Homo sapiens: one gene and its partner. The protein of the gene in region 1 purifies or fractionates together with the protein of each later gene. This does not show direct contact. Each region holds a gene or a part of one and is shown in the gene's direction. Other genes may lie near its edges.

Evidence for each region.
Region 2: the proteins of BGLAP (region 1) and P3H2 purify together in Homo sapiens (affinity purification with mass spectrometry; one large-scale study listed by BioGRID and IntAct). This does not show direct contact.

Annotation. Positions count from the first base shown.
Region 1 is NC_000001.11:156,240,684-156,243,817, forward strand, and holds BGLAP (osteocalcin preproprotein), read left to right. Parts: upstream 1-1,500; 5' UTR 1,501-1,548; coding exon 1,549-1,612; intron 1,613-1,869; coding exon 1,870-1,908; intron 1,909-2,078; coding exon 2,079-2,148; intron 2,149-2,349; coding exon 2,350-2,479; 3' UTR 2,480-2,634; downstream 2,635-3,134. Other genes in the region: PMF1-BGLAP protein, read left to right, coding at 1,870-1,908, 2,079-2,148, 2,350-2,400. UniProt on the Homo sapiens protein: Bone protein that constitutes 1-2% of the total bone protein, and which acts as a negative regulator of bone formation. Functions to limit bone formation without impairing bone resorption or mineralization. It binds strongly to apatite and calcium.
Region 2 is NC_000003.12:189,970,678-189,974,696, reverse strand, and holds part of P3H2 (prolyl 3-hydroxylase 2 isoform a precursor), read left to right. Parts: intron 1-11; coding exon 12-139; intron 140-692; coding exon 693-788; intron 789-1,672; coding exon 1,673-1,823; intron 1,824-2,689; coding exon 2,690-2,807; intron 2,808-3,805; coding exon 3,806-3,881; intron 3,882-4,019. UniProt on the Homo sapiens protein: Prolyl 3-hydroxylase that catalyzes the post-translational formation of 3-hydroxyproline on collagens. Contributes to proline 3-hydroxylation of collagen COL4A1 and COL1A1 in tendons, the eye sclera and in the eye lens capsule.

The DNA of each region.
Region 1 (3,134 bases):
GAGGTTGCAGTGAGCCGAGATCGCACCATTGCACTCCTGCCTGGGCGACAGAGCGAGACTCCGTCTCAAAAAAAAAGAACCGCGAGCACTTTGTTTCTCTTGCTTCTTCCACTTCACTCTTCTTCAGCCAGGGCAGCCAAAGGCAGGATGGGTGCTTCCCGGATCCACCAGAGGGGGAAAGGGGTTGGGCGTGTATGGGGGCAGAACTTTTCCCTAGTGAGAGCCTTGGTGAGGTCTGCTGGAGGCACACTGGGGACACAGGCAAGCATCAGGTGGTCCCAACTTCCCACCCCCCTCCCATAAACGGCACTTGGCTCAGTCTCCCTCTGCCCACCTTGTCACCATGGAGCTGTGGCATTCAAGCATCCAAATGCCCTGCTTCTGTCAGGCCTGCCCCGTCGGGTGCTTTGTTTACTTGTCAGGTTGGGCAGATGGTCTCAAGCCCTGGTTGGTGGGTGGGTGAGTGAGGAGACAGGTTAGACAGGGGAAGGTCCCAGGACATGTCTTCCCTCTCTGGGCTGACCTGAGGCAGTGGAGGCTCTCAGGTGTGGGATGGGGTTTTCAGGCTGGGATGTTCTGTACCGTAGAGGATAGGCCTTCCTATTACTTATCGGAGCACTACGGGAGGGCAGGTCCCTCCCCAGGGTGTTTAACACTGGAGGCTGCAGGGTCAGGAGGAGAATCGTGGGGCCAGGAGGGCAGAGGCACACTCCATCTTCGTGCTCCTCACAGGCCCTGCCTCCCTGCCTGCTAAGGACACAGGGAAGGGGGTCCCCACCTCAGTGCCTGCCTCCCTTCCCTGTGCCTGTGTACCTGGCAGTCACAGCCACCTGGCGTGTCCCAGAAACCAACCGGCTGACCTCATCTCCTGCCCGGCCCCACCTCCATTGGCTTTGGCTTTTGGCGTTTGTGCTGCCCGACCCTTTCTCCTGTCCGGATGCGCAGGGCAGGGCCTGAGCCGTCGAGCTGCACCCACAGCAGGCTGCCTTTGGTGACTCACCGGGTGAACGGGGGCATTGCGAGGCATCCCCTCCCTGGGTTTGGCTCCTGCCCACGGGGCTGACAGTAGAAATCACAGGCTGTGAGACAGCTGGAGCCCAGCTCTGCTTGAACCTATTTTAGGTCTCTGATCCCCGCTTCCTCTTTAGACTCCCCTAGAGCTCAGCCAGTGCTCAACCTGAGGCTGGGGGTCTCTGAGGAAGAGTGAGTTGGAGCTGAGGGGTCTGGGGCTGTCCCCTGAGAGAGGGGCCAGAGGCAGTGTCAAGAGCCGGGCAGTCTGATTGTGGCTCACCCTCCATCACTCCCAGGGGCCCCTGGCCCAGCAGCCGCAGCTCCCAACCACAATATCCTTTGGGGTTTGGCCTACGGAGCTGGGGCGGATGACCCCCAAATAGCCCTGGCAGATTCCCCCTAGACCCGCCCGCACCATGGTCAGGCATGCCCCTCCTCATCGCTGGGCACAGCCCAGAGGGTATAAACAGTGCTGGAGGCTGGCGGGGCAGGCCAGCTGAGTCCTGAGCAGCAGCCCAGCGCAGCCACCGAGACACCATGAGAGCCCTCACACTCCTCGCCCTATTGGCCCTGGCCGCACTTTGCATCGCTGGCCAGGCAGGTGAGTGCCCCCACCTCCCCTCAGGCCGCATTGCAGTGGGGGCTGAGAGGAGGAAGCACCATGGCCCACCTCTTCTCACCCCTTTGGCTGGCAGTCCCTTTGCAGTCTAACCACCTTGTTGCAGGCTCAATCCATTTGCCCCAGCTCTGCCCTTGCAGAGGGAGAGGAGGGAAGAGCAAGCTGCCCGAGACGCAGGGGAAGGAGGATGAGGGCCCTGGGGATGAGCTGGGGTGAACCAGGCTCCCTTTCCTTTGCAGGTGCGAAGCCCAGCGGTGCAGAGTCCAGCAAAGGTGCAGGTATGAGGATGGACCTGATGGGTTCCTGGACCCTCCCCTCTCACCCTGGTCCCTCAGTCTCATTCCCCCACTCCTGCCACCTCCTGTCTGGCCATCAGGAAGGCCAGCCTGCTCCCCACCTGATCCTCCCAAACCCAGAGCCACCTGATGCCTGCCCCTCTGCTCCACAGCCTTTGTGTCCAAGCAGGAGGGCAGCGAGGTAGTGAAGAGACCCAGGCGCTACCTGTATCAATGGCTGGGGTGAGAGAAAAGGCAGAGCTGGGCCAAGGCCCTGCCTCTCCGGGATGGTCTGTGGGGGAGCTGCAGCAGGGAGTGGCCTCTCTGGGTTGTGGTGGGGGTACAGGCAGCCTGCCCTGGTGGGCACCCTGGAGCCCCATGTGTAGGGAGAGGAGGGATGGGCATTTTGCACGGGGGCTGATGCCACCACGTCGGGTGTCTCAGAGCCCCAGTCCCCTACCCGGATCCCCTGGAGCCCAGGAGGGAGGTGTGTGAGCTCAATCCGGACTGTGACGAGTTGGCTGACCACATCGGCTTTCAGGAGGCCTATCGGCGCTTCTACGGCCCGGTCTAGGGTGTCGCTCTGCTGGCCTGGCCGGCAACCCCAGTTCTGCTCCTCTCCAGGCACCCTTCTTTCCTCTTCCCCTTGCCCTTGCCCTGACCTCCCAGCCCTATGGATGTGGGGTCCCCATCATCCCAGCTGCTCCCAAATAAACTCCAGAAGAGGAATCTGTGGGCCTGTGAGTCTGTCCAGTTTATGGAGTGTGGGAGGGAGGTGTCAGGAGGATGGGGGTGAGGAGGTTTTACCTTCTTCAGTTCTAGAAAGTGCTTTCCAAAGTTTTATTTTTTTATTTGTACCTGCCTTGTTCCAGAAAACGTTGAAGGTGGCTTCCCAAAGTCTAACTAGGGATACCCCCTCTAGCCTAGGACCCTCCTCCCCACACCTCAATCCACCAAACCATCCATAATGCACCCAGATAGGCCCACCCCCAAAAGCCTGGACACCTTGAGCACACAGTTATGACCAGGACAGACTCATCTCTATAGGCAAATAGCTGCTGGCAAACTGGCATTACCTGGTTTGTGGGGATGGGGGGGCAAGTGTGTGGCCTCTCGGCCTGGTTAGCAAGAAGCATTCAGGGTAGGCCTAGGTTAGTCGTGTTAGTTCTTCCCTGTGCTGAGCAGAGACTTCCAGAAGCACCAGAAACGGAGCCAGATGAAAGGACCCC
Region 2 (4,019 bases), on another chromosome or scaffold:
TGTTCCTGTAGGTGGTCCTCTACTCTATGAGAACATCACATTCGTCTACAACTCGGAGCAGCTGAACGGGACTCAGCGGGTTCTCCTGGATAACGTCCTGTCGGAAGAACAGTGCCGGGAGCTCCACAGCGTGGCCAGTGTGAGGATCCGGAGAAGGAGGGGAGCTCACTGCGCTGGCCTGCCAAGAAGCTGGAACTGCTTTGGTCCTGGTCTCATCTGGAGCCAGACAACAAGCCCTGAAATATTGCTTTCTTGAGGAGAAAGACATAAATTATTTTTGAGGAACTTTTATAGCCTTTGGGTTGGGATTATTTTAGTTTTCCCGGGTGGGATCTGGAATAGCTACTGGCATATTTCCTAGCCCAACAGCCATCTAGCAAGGTCCCTGCCTATCATATAAAGTTGCTGGAGAAATCCTTTTATTTTAATTAATTATTAGGCAATATATCAATAATTTACATTCTTTTTATTTCCATAAAAAGTGACAGTATTTGATAATAAAAATGTAGAATGAAGATTAAATAAAGATATCTCTTTTAATTAAAAGAATAGTTATACCAGCATCCTGGAATAAAATGGGGATGGTTCTTAGCATTGACTAGAGTTCTCAGCTTTCTGGCAGCCAAAGCAGAAAAAGACCTGATGAATTCATAGTTATCATTGATGACGTATCTTCTTGTATTTGCTTCCAGGGAATCATGCTTGTTGGTGATGGATACAGAGGAAAAACTTCACCCCATACACCCAATGAAAAGTTTGAAGGTGCAACTGTCCTGAAAGCACTCAAAGTAAAGTCTTAACTTCTTTTGGGTTTGAGTTCCTTAGTGTCAGCCTAAGGCTTCTGTAAATGGCAGATATAAGAAAGAAAAAAGTGGCCAGGCACAGTGGCTCACGCCTGTAATCCCAGCACTTTGGGAGGCTGAGGCAGGCAGATCACGAGGTCAGGAGATCGAGACCACCCTGGCTAACATGGTGAAACCCCGTCTCTACTAAAAATACAAAAAAATTAGCCAGGCATGGTAGTGGGTGCCTGTAGTCCCAGCTACTCGGGAGGCTGAGGCAGGAGAATGGCGTGAACCTGGGAGGCAGAGGTTGCGGTGAGCCGAGATCGCGCCACTGCACTCCAGCCTGGCCTGGGCGAGAGCGAGACTCCGTCTTAAAAAAAAAAAAAAAAAAAAAAAAAAAGAAAGAAAGAAAGAAAGAAAAAAGTTTTGAATATATACCTATCAGGACAGCTGAAAGAAGCAAGAGTGAAATGAAACCTTCATTGTAGTTAATCATTCCTCCGTTCAGCCATCAACTTATCAAACTTTACATTTCCTGACAAAAAATACATACAATCCCTCTTTGTAAAATCATGATCTAATAGTGAAAACATATTCAAACAAGTAATTATTCTCTACTGCAGGAAGGGTTGTTAGAGAGGATGGTAGAACATATTATAATAGAAGAGAAGAGGAACCAAGTAGCTTTTAGCTTTCCATCTGTTATTGGGAAGAGTTTATTCCAATGGCACAATGTCCTAACCGAAATCCACAAATATGTAGTAGCCTTCCCCATTAGTCAATACAGACATGACAATCCTATATTGGCTCAATGCAAGCTAGTGCCTGTTTTTCTTACGACCTCCAATGAACCCATTTGTTTCTCATGTTTTGTTTTTTTTTTTCAGTCTGGTTATGAAGGTCGAGTCCCACTGAAGAGCGCTCGTCTGTTTTATGACATCAGCGAAAAGGCTCGAAGGATTGTAGAATCTTATTTTATGCTGAACTCAACTCTGTATTTTTCCTATACACACATGGTCTGCCGAACAGCCCTGTCTGGTGAGATTGCAGTCTGAAATGGTTCCCTTTTACCCACAATACATTGGGAAATGAAACAAGGCAAAACAAAGCTCAACAGCATGGTAGATTAATATTTTAGACGAATTCTAGATTTCCAAAACAAAAGTAGCTTATGAACTCTTATTCTGCTTCTTTCTTTTTCTTCCTTTTGTTCTTCTGAAGTTCCAGAAAACCCTCGTTCTGAACATTTTCCCTTCCAAATCAATTTTCCCCAATTGCTGAAGTCTTGGGAAAAAAAAATGCTTTTCTGCTGTAGGTTTCCCATTTTGAGGAATCAGGAACATGGAAATCATAGTCACCATGATGTCTACCAGCATTAAGTGGAAGCATAGAAGATGAAGGGATGATTGAAAGAAATACTCTTAAAAAGACCGGGACCTTCTCGGTCCCTGCTCAGCATTATTTCTCCTCTATGTCTTATGCCCCTCTGAATGGGGCGGGGGGAATAATGATGTCATAGGAGTAGACTTTTACACTTGGGAAGTTTTAGCTGAATTAAATCTTGTTTTTTTAAAAAATTTTCATTTCCTTCCCATTGTTTTGCTGCCCTATGTGAAGTACAACCCATGAAACGCATGGAATTTGTTCATGTATGTTTATATCAGAAATAACTTTTATAGCTGAAGAGACAGGTGTGACATGCTCAAGGTTTCACATCCAGTTCATATCAGAACCAGACCAGAATCTCAACTACTTGTCCACTGTTCTTTTATCTGTTCTTTCCTGTTGTCTGCCTCTGCCCATTTGCAAAGATCATCAGGACTGGGAGAAGAGAGATTGTCAGTTACTTTGGTGGAAGTTGCTGCACTTCATTTCTCGTTCTTCCCTATTCCCTTTTCTGGCAGGTCAGCAGGATAGAAGAAATGACCTCAGTCATCCCATCCATGCTGACAACTGTTTGTTGGATCCAGAGGCCAACGAATGCTGGAAGGAGCCTCCTGCTTACACATTTCGAGACTATAGGTATAGCTAGAACCTGCTTCAAAACAAAGCTTTTACCTAACAGTTTTCAAGCAGTGAAAACTGGAAAGGTGCTCTGTTTTGCTTGACGTCGTGTTCATATCTCCAAGGCAGAAATTCTCAAATAATCTTCTGAAGTAGCTGCCATAACCAATAAGTGGCATTATCATCTCACTTTTATCTTAAAAATTGTGCACAGTTTGCATCCCATTTCACAAAATGTCCATTTTGTTTTAATATGAAAAGTAAATTTTATGTTCTTTTAAAAAAATTCCTGTTCTCCCTGGAACATATTCCTTGTGGTATATGTATTTCAGTCAGAATACAAGGGCATGGAGTCTTGGCCTACATAAGGACTTTATCACATCAATTATCTTTATTCATACCCAAGAAGAACTATGTCTGCATTTTATAAATAAGACACTAGAAACTCAGGAGAAAAGAATGTCCTTACCTATTGAGAGAGATTTCAGTGTGTAAGGAATCAGGAGTTATAGTCACCATGTGTTCATCCTTACTACACTGTACTCGATTCCAAAACATTTATTAAGCACCCGCTATCTGCAAGGCGTGGCTAGGCCACAAGGAACTCTTCAGCAAGTTAAAGAGAAAAACAACAACAAGAACAAAGCAAACAAACAAACAAAAATCCTTTAGAGTTATATAAGGGAAAAAGAGAGTTGTAATTAGGGTGGGCACGTTCAAAGGGCTAGATTAAATTAAAACTAGTTAGGTTTTCTGTGGAGGAAGTGAAATGTGAGACAAGCTTTGACATATGATTACAATTTTAGTAAAGGTGGAATAAGTAAACTCTTCAGAGGTATAACTCAAACTCTATCTGATCTTCTCTTTAAGAGTTTGGAGGACCAATTATATCAATGTCTAGTTCAAAGGAAACTTACTAATGGAGGCTGGACAGTACATCACCAGTCTTCAGTATTCTATGACCATGCTCTCATAAGCATATAATAATACAAATAGTTTTCTCTTCATTCTTATAGTGCTCTCCTATATATGAATGATGACTTTGAAGGAGGAGAATTCATATTCACAGAGATGGATGCTAAGACTGTGACTGTAAGTAAACCTATTCTTGAATACTTATTTAGTATGTTTTAGCTCAGTATTGCCATTTTTCTAAGTACTTACAGATGGTTAGATTTCAAATACTTCTGAGCTCAAGATTTCAAGAGGTTAAGAGAGTTTCAGTAAATG